2 linked regions of the Homo sapiens genome follow. The protein of the gene in region 2 purifies or fractionates together with the protein of the main gene of each other region. This does not show direct contact. Each region holds a gene or a part of one and is shown on either strand. Other genes may lie near its edges.

The links. The genes of interacting proteins can lie anywhere in the genome.
Region 1: the proteins of HMX2 (region 2) and CALB2 purify together in Homo sapiens (affinity purification with mass spectrometry; one large-scale study listed by BioGRID and IntAct). This does not show direct contact.

Annotation. Positions count from the first base shown.
Region 1 is NC_000016.10:71,361,723-71,365,222, forward strand, and holds part of CALB2 (calretinin), read left to right. Parts: intron 1-3,500. UniProt on the Homo sapiens protein: Calcium-binding protein involved in calcium homeostasis and signal transduction. It plays a critical role in buffering intracellular calcium levels and modulating calcium-dependent signaling pathways.
Region 2 is NC_000010.11:123,146,872-123,150,935, forward strand, and holds HMX2 (homeobox protein HMX2), read left to right. Parts: upstream 1-1,264; 5' UTR 1,265-1,507; coding exon 1,508-1,775; intron 1,776-2,698; coding exon 2,699-3,252; 3' UTR 3,253-3,801; downstream 3,802-4,064. UniProt on the Homo sapiens protein: Transcription factor involved in specification of neuronal cell types and which is required for inner ear and hypothalamus development.

The DNA.
Region 1 (3,500 bases), on a different chromosome or scaffold from region 2:
CCATTCCAAAACAGAAAAAGCCACCATCACCCTAAAGAGTTGGATTATTTTCAAAATTCTTATTAGCTTTGTGGTAGAGAAAGGAAGAAGTGTATGTTTGGAGAGTGAGAAACTAGGACTCAAAGAGGCAAAATTCTTTTCACAAGATCACACAGCAAAGCAGGAAGAGGTGAAGGGGGAACCAGGAATCTGGTCTCCTAGTCCGCAATACCACTCCACCAACTCTGCCTCAGCAGTCAGCCAAGAGCATGCGTTTGGGAGGGTTCCAATGTTGTCTCTCAAAGGCTGAGGTAGGGAAGATGACAGCCAAGCCCACCCAGTGACCCTGGTGGGGTCTAGGGCTCTTCCGAACATCACCTCCATGCTCCGAGTGGCCCTGACGTGGCCTTACGTATCTGAGCCCATTGCTCTGTTGCTTCCTGGACACTTCTGTATCAGGACCTTTCCCCCTCTAAAGGATCCAGGTGGCTGAGGGATGCCCAGTTCAGAGTTCACACTGTCCTTTATTTATGGTTCTGATTAGACAGGCCACCGGGCTCCTATTTTACTGACCATCTGCGAGCAGCAAAGTTGTGGCTCCAAAGAGAAATGCCTTAGCTTTTGCTACCCCTTTGAAAGCAACTAAGAATGTAAAGATAAGATGAGTTCTCTTCCAGGGGCAAGCAGACATTCATGGGGCCAAGGTGAACATCCTACTCCCTTCCAAGAATCTAGCCTACATAGATATACTCGTATGTGCGCAGAAAGTTATATGAACAAACATGTCTATTACAGTGTTCTTCGGAAATACTAACAATTTCAGTGGGTGGAGGGGAGAATGTGCTTCACTGGGGGACAGAAAAATAAATATGGTCATCCCTATGATGGAGTATGATAGAGCGAAGTGAAGCTTTTGTAGTGACATGGAAAAATGTCCAAGATGTATTATTAAGATATTGTTTAAAACTGTAGCTGAACACTATTATAAGCCCGTTTTTATTATGAATGATATATGTATGTTGCAGGATATTTAGAAAAATACAACTGAATAATAGCGGCTCTCTCTGAAGAGTGGATGAGCCAAATGAAAGGGGATTTTCTTTTACTTTCTAAGTTAATTTCCATAGCACTTGAAAATTTTACAAGAGCATCTATTTCCTGTGTAGTCAGCAAAACAATAAAGATATAAGAAGGGAGGCCAGGCACAGTGGCTCAGGCCTATAATCCCAGCACCTTGGGAGGCCAAGGCAGGAAGATCACTTGAAGCCAGGAGTTCGAGACCAGCTTGGGCAATACAGTGAGACCCCCCCTCCCCCTACTACAAATTTAAAAATTAAGCAGGTGTGGTGGCGCACGCCTGTAGTCCCAGCTACTTGAGAGGCTGAGGCAGGAAGATGGCTTGAGCCCAGGTAGTCCAAGCCTGCAGTGAGCTATGATTGCACCACTGCACTCCAGCCTGGGCAACAGAGCCAGACCCTATCTTTAAAAAAATAACTAACTAAATAAATAAAGATATAAGAAGAAAACAATGTGATAGACACCTTTTCTTCCCTTGTAAGAAATATGTATATGTCTCCAGGTGGGGGGATCTGCCTATACTCTTCTGGGCTTCTGTCCACCTCCAAGTGGCCCAGGTGACGTAGGGGGTGCTCAAAGCCTCTCACAGGGACTGAGTCCTGTTCCTTATCTATGTGGACCCTGAGGATTTTGAAAATAACAACAGAGGCCACAAAGGGCTGAGGATGGCTCTACGCAGGCTCCCATCCTCGCCCTCTGAAACCCAGTGACCTGGCAGAAGTCTTCTCCAAGCCCACACAACACTGAGGACCACTCAGGGCCAGACTGCAGTGCCCAGGCAGGCTCTTCCAGGGCACGGGTCACTGCTCATTTGTTTGTCCCTGGTTTAGGGAATGGGGAGGAAATTTAGAACAGCAGCACCTCTCAGAGATGAACGGGAACCTGGGCAACTGGCCCTGGGCGGCTGCATGAGAGGTCCTGCAATACCAAAGTGAAACACATGCTGAAATAGGGTCACAAAATATGTGATGTATATTAAGTGTTTATATAAATGACACAACAGTTACAATGCTATAAGGTAATCATAGGATTTATCAAAACGATTGGGTCTTGGCCCATTAAAATCAACAGGGTCCGACACTGGGAACCAAGATTAAAGTTGTCAGAGGAGCGCTTTCTCTGAACCCTGTTAGTGAACCTCTGGGGGTCTGTATACCTCTCAGCTGGGCGTGGCGTGATGTCAGGATATGAGGCTCTCAGGGAACAGCCGCCTGACCCATCTGGGGTAGGCCCTGGAAAATGTCCCCCACCCCTGCCTCTGCTCCCTCCCCCAACTCCCCAGTTTTTTCACTAACAGCGTCCTTGGGTTGTGGAGTGTCCACGTGCAGCAGCTCTACGCTGGGTACCTCCAGGTGGGCTCTTGCCTGCTATGGCTCTGCTTCTCAGACTCTGATTGCACCAGCCGGCAGCGGGGAGCAGCTGGTCTGTGAAGAGCTGGGGCTCCCCGGGGGAGCCCGCCTAAGGGACCCGTTTCACAAACAAGATGCCAGCCCTGCATTGCCTTGATATTGACAGCCAGGCCGGCTGTCCCTGCCCTGCTCAGCTTGTATATTCCCCTCCAGACTTCAGCAGCTTTACCAGCCAAGCCCCTGAGGGAGGTTTCCAGGGCTAAGGAGACCCCTCAGGGAAATCAATTCCAAAACCAAAGGAGCTAGAATTAATAGAGCAGGCCTGAGGCTCTTCAAGAACAGTGCCTCTCCAGCCCCAGCCTGCCGGCGGATTGCATCCCAGGCCCTCCTTTGCCAAGCCGGCCCATCTGGGGCCTCTGGCTTCAGCCCTCCCTCTGTCCTTGTTGGCTCTTCACTATCTCCCCTCTCACCCAATCTGCCCTATCCTTCTGGCCTCCCTCATGCCTGGGACTCAGCCCAGCATTAGGCTGCCAGATGTCCACAGGTTCAGGGGACCCAGCCCAGCTCCAGAACCACGGGTCCAAAGCAGCACAGCCCAGAAACATAGATTGAAATTCAAGTGCCCAAACATTCAGCTGGTGGCTGGTAGCTCTTCACTCTGGGGCTTATTCTTTTTTCCAGAAGCCACTGGAAGAAGCGTGTGTGTGTGTGTCAGAGAGAGAAGCCAGGACAAATGCAGATATGGACAGACATTGTCCCTGGGACAAATAGAAGGAGGCCAGGACCTCTGTCAGCTGTGGCTGAATCTCCTTCCCCCTCCGATTCCTCCTTTCTAAGATGGGGTTGATAACTGCTTACCTGGCAGGGTCGTAAAGAACAGATGAGGTGGGAAGTGGAAAGCTTTTTGGGAATGGTGCGCACCAAGCAAAGCAGGATTAATACTGGGGCAGAGCCTGGGGAAGCCAATTTCTTACCCCAAAGGGTAGGATTTGACTGTCCCAGAGGGTGCTCCAGATGGAGGTTAGAGGACTGTTTGCCTTCGATAAATCTGAACTCCAGATAGACCGACAAGCGGCCTGGCCTCCTGGATGCCTT
Region 2 (4,064 bases):
AAACCGCTTTGCTTGGCTGGGCTAATTCTAGCTCGGGTAACAGCTGATCTAGGAATTAAAGGGGCGAGAGCCAGGGCACAGAAGGGGGCTATGAGAACACAGAGGGAATCACTATTTACTGAGCACCACGGTGTGCCAGGCTCGGTGCTGGGTAGTTTGACCTCACAACAGCCTCTGCGAGGGAGGCACTGCTTCCTCCAATTTTAGGAATAAAGAAACCGAGCCTCAGAATTTCCAAATGTCTTCCCCCAAGATCACCCAGCCGAGAATTGAGTCGAGTCTGCTCAATTCTAAAACCGAGTCCTGTCACCAGTTCCTTATCTTCTTCCTGGGAGTAAGGCGTCTATTTCTGCAGCAGTTCGGAAACCTTCAAAATTTACAAAACAAAAACACAGATTCGCTTAAAACACGGGTGGGCCATGGGCTACCCGGCCAGGTTTATGGAGTACCTACTATGCGCTGCTAGTGCTTCGAGGCTTTTAATCCCTACCTGAGGCAATCCGAGAAGTTATTTTCAACTATGAGGGCAGAGAGGCTTTAATCGGCATGAGTTGTGCAAGTTCATGCAGTGTGTAAATAGTTGTGCCGGAATTTGAACCCAGATCTCTTGACTAGAGGTCTTAGGGCTTCCTCCCTCCCCCTAAAGATTCTGTAGGTCCGTAGAACCTGTGACAGGGATGAGGTCTGCAGACGGGGAAGGGGAATGTCTGCTCCCAAGGCTCCTGGCCATGCTGGAGAGGATGAGCGTCCGCCTGGAGACGCCTGCTCCTAACCCACCTCACCCCCACGCAGGGCGCCACGGTCCCAGGAGTGCCGGCTTTGCCCGCCCACTGGGGCTAGAAGGGGTGGAGGGCTGGGGGAGGATGGTGGAGCAGCCTGTACAAGCCCCTGGGAGGCGCGGAGACCCGTCGCCTGCGGAGGCGTCGAGCCACTCCAGCTCCGAGTCCCGCACCGCCCCTGCCTCTGGAGAGAAGGGTCCAAGGGGTCCAAGGAGTCGGAGTTGCCGCAGCCGCCAGGAACCCGGGCTAGAATCTGCAGCTGCTTTCAGCCCTGGCTGCCCCTGGTTAGACGCCGCTGATGCCCGCCAGGCCCTCGGCGCGCTCTGGGGGCGCACCGGTGCTGTGTGCCTGGCCGGAGCGTTTTGAAATTTTCCGGGGCCGCTCGGCGGCGCTGCGATTGGCCGCGTTCGGGTAACCTCTATGCAAATGAGGCCGCGCCGCCTCCGCGCCGCCGGAGACCCGGCGAGTTGGCGGGCGAGGAAGGGGCATTTGCACCGGGGCTGGGCGGGCGCACCCAGAGCCAGGCGGGCAGGAACCCCTGCGCAGCCATCCGGTGCCTGCATGTCCCTGGCGCGGAAGGGACGCCTCACCAGCCTCGGCGCCCCCTCCCCCTAGATTTCCTCCCCGCCCCTCCCCACTGCCTGCCTGCTGCACCACCTTCCACCCAGATCACCCAGATCGTCTCTAAAGGGAGTTCTTGGTTTCCTTCGATTTCTTATGAACCCAGGATGGGCAGCAAAGAAGATGCGGGCAAGGGGTGTCCGGCGGCCGGTGGCGTCTCCAGCTTCACCATCCAGTCCATCCTGGGCGGGGGCCCCTCGGAGGCACCGCGGGAGCCCGTCGGCTGGCCAGCCAGGAAGCGCAGCCTGTCCGTGTCCTCGGAGGAGGAGGAGCCGGACGACGGCTGGAAGGCGCCCGCCTGCTTCTGCCCAGACCAGCACGGCCCTAAGGAGCAGGGCCCCAAGCACCATCCCCCCATCCCTTTTCCTTGCCTGGGTAAGGATCGCACGTCGCCAGTGTGGCAGCGAGCGAGCGCGAGGGGAGGGAGGCTGAGCGCCCCGCCAAGACTCCCGCGCCGGGCCCCCTCTGGCCAGAGCTGCGGCAGCCGGGGGTTCGGGACCGCGGGGAGAGGGGCGCGCACTGTGGTGCCTCCTCCGCCCGGTGGGCCCCTGGGAGCAGGCGAACACAGACCCGTGCCGGCTTGGGCTTCCTGGGGAAGGTTGAGTTGTTGAGAGAGTGGACCACAGCGAGAGGGACACGCGGCCGGCCTTACACCCGGCTGTCCTCAATCACTGCACATCTGGTACTTTCTTTCCGGACACGAGGTGGAGATCTGCAAGTCGGGTCTGGGCAGTCTGTCTCCACCGTAATCTCTTTCTGAGTCTTCTTCCTCACTCGCTCCGTATCTCTGCCTTTCTCTCTCTCTCCTCCTTGGAATGATTAGCACTCCAAGATGATTGACAATGGTGCATTTCAGAGACGGTTCCTCTTTACAACATTTGACGAAGGGGAGTCCTGCGTTAGTCCTTAGCGTGATTTCCAAACAAACGGCCTGTGAAATGATGCCACCCTATAAAGCTCGAGGAACTCTTCCAGCTCAATTACCACCAAGCAAATTCGCCTTTTAAAACCATGCTAATGTTTCCCCCTCCAGACCTCCTCTCCCTGTTGCCCCTGGCCCATTCATAAAGGTGGGAGCACAGAGACCCCATACTCCAAGTAGCTGGGTCCCTCTCTTGTCGCTTTTAAAGGACGGGGTGCTGGGTTTGGGGGGCCAGTGAGAGGGATAAGAGGAGGGGATTGGTAAGGTGGGACCAAGGCTGCAGGCGCTTGCCAACCGCTTGGTCCCAGGGAGAGCTGGCGGTCTCCGAGGCTCCCCAACCAACTCCATGGCCTTTCTGTCTGTTCTCGCTCCTCAGGTACCCCCAAGGGCAGCGGAGGCTCGGGCCCGGGCGGCTTGGAGCGCACGCCTTTCCTCTCTCCTTCGCACTCGGACTTTAAAGAAGAGAAAGAGAGGCTCCTGCCCGCGGGCTCGCCCTCGCCGGGGTCCGAGCGGCCGCGGGACGGCGGCGCTGAGCGGCAGGCCGGCGCGGCCAAGAAGAAGACGCGCACCGTCTTTTCGCGCAGCCAGGTGTACCAGCTCGAGTCCACCTTCGACATGAAGCGCTACCTGAGCAGCTCGGAGCGCGCCTGCCTCGCCTCCAGCCTGCAGCTCACGGAGACCCAGGTAAAGACTTGGTTCCAGAACCGCCGCAACAAGTGGAAGCGGCAGCTCTCGGCTGAGCTGGAGGCGGCCAACATGGCGCACGCGTCGGCGCAGACTCTGGTGAGCATGCCGCTGGTGTTCCGGGACAGTTCGCTGCTGCGCGTGCCGGTGCCGCGCTCGCTCGCCTTTCCCGCGCCGCTCTACTACCCGGGAAGCAACCTCTCGGCCTTACCTCTCTACAACCTATACAACAAGCTCGACTACTGACCGGCCCGCCGCCCCGCGCCGCCCCCAGCTGCCCGCAGAGCCGGGCGCGTACTGTACTGTAAGCAGGGCTCCGGAGCAAGGCGGCGTGTTTCCAGAAATATGAAGAAATACACCATGTGTATTCATTAGCTCTTATTTATGGTCTCTGCCCTACTTTTTGTTTTGATTGTTTCGGGTATTTATTGGCATTCCCTAAGTCAGAGAGCCTGCTTCCTACCTAGACCGAACCAGTACGCTTTGAAAACCATTCGGAGTGAGATGTTCTCGGGTGGTGGTGGGAAAGGGAGTTTTGGCCAGACAGGCTGTGGTTGGTAGGGAAAAAAATCAGGAAAACACCTACAAAACCAGGTACACTCCTCCCCCATATATACACCTGTATATATGTACATGCATACACGCTCGGCCAAGCCAGGCCCTCAGAGGCTTTGGACAATTACTAAATTGCTTCTTTTCGTTTCCCTCATCCCGAGGATGGTAGGGACGAAAAGGGGAGAGTTCAGATCTGTAAATATTTTTAAAAAGAAAAAAAAATAAAACATTTTAAACATCTTTGCTAACTTTGGTGGGCTTGGTTACCCGGCATGATAACGCACGGAAGGTTTTCAGGTTTTTCGGTGGAAAGACTTGCATGCGTCTGTCTGTGGAAGTTTGGCTCGCTCCACGTGGAGGGTGGGACCGGGGTCAGGGGTTAAAGGTCGGGACCTTGGCGCCGCCCAGACTGCACGTGGCTGGAGCTGCCCGCCCACTCTCCCTCCTAACGCCCAGAATCGTCGCGCGGGCTGGGGCGCACCCCGGCTGGAATCCAGCTCAAG